2 separate regions of the Homo sapiens genome follow, and region 1 is linked to region 2. A link means that fine-mapping ties the variant in region 2 to the expression of a gene that starts in the linked region. Tissue or cell type: whole blood. Region 2 holds a variant in brackets; the other region holds the start of a gene. All regions are shown on one strand. Distances are between the middles of the regions. Region 1 holds the start of SGO1-AS1 (SGO1 antisense RNA 1). Region 2 has its middle 8.6 kb from the start of SGO1-AS1.

Evidence for each region. PIP is the estimated chance that this variant, and not a neighbour inherited with it, causes the effect.
Region 1: it holds the start of SGO1-AS1, and the variant in region 2 is fine-mapped to the expression of SGO1-AS1 in whole blood (TOPMed, PIP 0.99).

What each region holds. Positions count from the first base shown.
Region 1 is chr3:20,172,863-20,175,362 of GRCh38, forward strand. SGO1-AS1 (SGO1 antisense RNA 1) reads left to right here and starts at 1,424. Exons shown (of 4, transcript NR_132785.1): 1 at 1,424-1,663; 2 at 1,873-1,956. SGO1 (shugoshin 1) reads right to left here. Exons shown (of 8, transcript NM_001199251.3): 6 at 1,387-2,193.
Region 2 is chr3:20,164,473-20,166,972 of GRCh38, forward strand. It overlaps a transcript of SGO1 not described here. Among named protein-coding and RNA genes, the nearest start is that of SGO1-AS1, 8.6 kb to the right of the region's middle. The variant C/T (reference allele first, on the strand shown) is at 1,305.

The DNA.
Region 1 (2,500 bases), 8.4 kb after region 2:
GGCTGAGGTGGAAGAATCACTTGAGCCTGGGAGGTTGAGACTGCAGTGAGCCATGACAGTGCCACTGCCCTCCAGCCGAGGTGATAGAGCAAGACCCTGTCTCAATTAAAAAGTGAACAACAACAAAAAAATCCCAACTTTTTCTGGACATTTTTAAATGTACACAAAGATGGCAATAACAGTATAATAAACTCTGAGTTACCCAGGTCCAATAATTATCAACACTTTGACAATCATGTTTGATTTATTCTAACATCATTATAGCATTTTTGCTTTTTTTTTTTTTGAGACTGAGTTTCGCTCTTGTTGCCTAGGCTGGAGCGCAATGGCATGGTCTCGGCTCACTGCAACCTCTGTTTCCTGGGTACAAGCAATTCTTTTTCTCCTGCCTCAGCCTCCCGAGTAGCTGGGATTACCGGCACATACCACCAGGCCTGGCTCATTTTTTTGTATTTTTAGTAGAGATGGGGTTTCACCATGTTGGCCAGGCTGGTCTTGGACTCCTGACCTCAGGTGATCCGCCCACCTCAGCCTCCCAAAGTGCTGGGATTACAGGCGTGAGCCAACCCGCCCGGCTTACAGCATATTTTTAAAAAAGATACTTGCCTGCTACCACTGACTAACTGGCCGATTTAGAAAGTTGGTTTGGTTTTTAAGGTTTTAATCTCCTTACAAACAAAATAAGCATCATAACACCTATACTTCACAGAATTGTTCTGAGGATCAAATAAAATGATGTGACAATATTTTGAAAATGATACAACTTGACTATAAATGTTAGTTTTACTTGTATTAACTAAAATTGCCAAATGAGAATCTTTGTGGACAGGTGTAGGTTGTATTACGAACATTTGAACTATGCCTACTTTTGATCTAATAAAATATTTTCTGAGCCAGTTTTTAGAGATGTCGTACAAAAGAATACTAAGCCTATCAATTGAGGAAATCTTCACTAACTAGAAGATTATTTTAAATCACGGTTCCTGTCAAATTTAATATAAAACAAGGCCATTAAAATAACAAGTCACTGGATTCAAATTTGATTTCACTTTCAAGGGGATACTTCAGTTAAGTGTATAAAAGCTACTTCAATTCAACCTAAGTCTACAAAAAAGTCCCTCTGTCCCCTTGGGAGTCCTAATTTACTGAAAATAAAAATTCTGTCTCCATAACAAGCAATCTCTGAATTAGGTCAGAGCAATACAACTGTGATTTCCACACCCAGCCCCCCACTGTTTAATCAGACCATAACTTCCACCAAAGAGAGACAGATGGTAAGTCTCCAACCTCCACCAGAGAAACAGATGGTAAGTATAGTATATAAGCATCAGGAGTGATCATTTATCACGAACATTAAAAATACAGGTAAACAAGTAGATCACTTACTGGTAGGAGTTTTTGTTGGCTTAGAACCCTCCGTCTCTTTTTCATCTGTGTATTTCAGTGCTCTTTTAGCTAGAGGCCTGGTGACTGGTCTATCTGAATTGCTCGTGGGATTCTGAATGTACTTGCAAGTGGGCAAATAGAGGTCATCGGAATCATCTCCTGAACCACTTGATTCACAGAGGCTCACTTCAGACTCGTTGTTTTCTTCTCTATTAGAGTCATTGCTCACTTTTTGTCGGAAAGGAGTAAGATGAACACCCTCTTCCAAATTAAAATTGTAAGCATCATTGGAACTGACAGATTTGTGCATTTTTTTTTGGGGAACAGTTTTTTTATTTTCGCTTTTATTCTCTTTATATTTTGACATACGTTTTGATTTTCTCCTGTTAGCTTTTCTTTTCTCTTCTCTTTTTCTTTCTTGTGTATCTCTTTGCTTACTTTTAGTTTGTTCAGATTTAGATTCTAAAATGTCTTCTTTTGTTTTAGTAAACGTTCCTGGCTGAATCAGCTTTGGTGATAAGTTAACTTGGTCCTTGCTCCATTGACAAGCATTGTGTTGTACATTTTCAGGTATGTGCATGTTTACTAGTGGGTCTAAAAATCCAACTCTTTCGAATTCAAAAGACTTCCCTGCCAAATGACTGGTTTCAAAATCATCCAAGCTATCAAACTGACATATACTGTTACAATGTTTCTTTAAACTGCTACGAACAGATACAGTTCTAGGTAAGACATTATCAGTAGACTTAGCTTCACCTGAATCAAAATCAACTCCCAGTGTGTCTTGAGGAATAGTAGGTATCTGATCTGAGAATTTAAAAAATAAATGAGAAAAGTAGTTTTACTTTGTGGAAATTTGAATTTCAAGAACTTTAGAATTCAAACTAAAAAAGTGAATGACCAAAAGGTCATTCTGTAGTTTTCCTACATTATAAAATCTGTAAATAAAAACCTGGGAACTTAAATATTACCATCTATTTACTTGTCAGTGATCAACTGATGGCTTATATCTGACATGTGAAAGAATCTTGTACAGGTTCAGTATCCCTAATCTGAAAATCTGAAATCCAAAACTTTTTTAGTGCAGTCATGATGCTCCAAGGAAATGCTAACT
Region 2 (2,500 bases):
AATATCACAGTAATGCCCTAGGACCAAATGCTTCCTCCCAAAGTCGAGAAAAAGGCAAAGATAACTGCTCTTCTCACCCCTATTCAACATTATGGAGGAAGTTCTAGTCAGTGCAGTAAAGCAAGAAAAGACATGCAAAATAGAAAGACAGAAGTAAATTGTCTTTACGTGCAGACTTTAATTAAGATCATATACAAAAAAAAATCCTAATGGAACTGCAAAACATGGTAGTAGAACTAGTGAATGAATTTAGCAAGGTCTAGATATGAAAATCAATTGTATTCCATAAACTAGCAGCAAAATAACAGAAAATTAAAAATAATACATTTATAATAAGTCAAGAATATGAAATGCTAAGGGACAAACTAACAAAATATGAAGAAAAATTAGAATGACTAGACTTCTCAACAACAAAATCAAGCCTGTAAGAAAATTAGTAACTCTTAACCTATACCTCAGGAATGAGGGCAAAATTGAATTCATTTTAAGGAAAACACAGAATTTGACCCTTATCAAAATGACATAAAGAAAAAGCAGAGTAGTTTCTTAGTTCATTTGTGTTGCTATAAAGGAATACCCGAAGCTGGATAATTTATAAAGAAAAAATGTTTATTTGGCTTACAATTCTGGTGGCTGGAAGACTGGGCATGAGGTGAAAGCCTCAGGCTGCTTCCACTCATGGTAGAAGGCAAAGGGGAGCTGGCATGTGCAGAGATCACACGGCAAGAAAGGAAGCAAGAGAGAAGTGGCACTAGGCTCTTTTAAACAACCAGCTGTCTTGGGAACTAAATGAGTGAGAGCTTACTTATCCCCTCCTCCCAGTGAGGGCATTAATTCATTCATGAGGGACCTGTTCCCATGACCCAAACACCTGCTATTAGATCCCCCAGCAACACTGGGGATCAGATTTCAACATGGGATTTGGAGGAACCAAATTGTAGCAGATATAAAGCAAAAAAAATCAATAAAAGCAAAATTATAGCAGTTATCACAATACATGTACACTTAACAATTCCCAAGGGAGAAAAATTAAACAGATTCAAGAAGAATTAGAGAACATGTAAGACTTATAATTATTAAAAAACTAGTACAAAATTTCCCCATGAAAACATAGAAAGATAAGATGGTTTTGGTGTCAAGTTCACCAAACCCTCAACAGGTGCAATTTGTTTCCACAGAGCAAAAAAAGAAAACATTGCTAGTATAGCCTTGATACCGAAAATAGGTGTATACAAGAAATTATATAGGCAAATTTTACTCATGATCATAGATACAAAAAATCCTAAACAAAATTGTTGGCCAGG[C/T]GCAGTGGCTCACGCCTGTAATCCCAGCACTTTGGGAGGCCAAGGCAGGCGAATCACTTGATGTTAGGAGTTTGAGACCAGCCTGGCCAACATGGTGAAACCCCGACTCTACTAATAATACAAAAAATAGCTGGGCATGGTGGGCACACACCTGTAATCCCAGCTACTTGGGAGGCTGAGACAGGAGAATCGCTGGAACCCAGGAGGTGGAGGTTGCAGTGAGCCAAGATTGTACCACTGCACTCCAGCCTGGCTGACAGAGCGAGACTCCATCTCAAACAAAAAAAAAGTTAGCAAACAAATCCTACCTATGTATTAAAAAAATTATGACTTAGAAGACAACAGAAGAGAAAATAGACAAATTGGATTCAATAAAATTTCAGAACTATTGTACATCAAAGGACACTATCAACAGAGTAAAAAGGCAACCAACAGAATGGGGGAGGACATTTGGAAATCACATATCTGATAAGGGACTAATATCTAATATATATAAAAACTAAAACACAACAACAAAAAACAACCTATTGGATTTGAATAGACATTTCTTCAAAGATATACAAACTTAAATGTTCATTGATGGATAAAGAAAATATGTATACATACAATGAGATGTTACTCAACCTTAAAAAGGAATAAAATTTTGATACATGCTATAACATGGATGAACCTTGCGATTATTATGCTAACTAAGCCAGACACAAAGGACAAATATCCTATGATTCCATTTCTGTGAGGTACCTGGAACAGTCAAATTCATAGAGATAGAAAGTAAAAGTAGTGGTTACCAGAGGTTGGGAGAGAGGGGAGAAGAGAGAGTGATTGTTCAATGGGTATAGAGTTTTAGTTTGGGAAGAAGAAGTAGTTCTGGAAAAGGGTAGTGATGGTTGCACAATCATGTGAATGTACTTAATGCTACTGAACTTTACAAATAAAATGATCAAAATGGTCAGGTGTGGTGGCTCATGCCTGTAATCCTAGCACTTTGGGAGGTAAGATTGGACGATTGCTTGAGGCCAGGAGTTTAAGACTGGCCTAGGAAACATAGCCAGTCCCCATCTCTACCAAAAAAAAAAAAAAAAAAAAAAAAAAAAAAATTAGCCAGGTGCAGTGGTGCAAGCTTGTAGTCCTAGGTAAAGGGGATCCTTTGAACCCAGGAGTTTGAGGCTACAGTGAGTTATGATTGGCCACTGCAC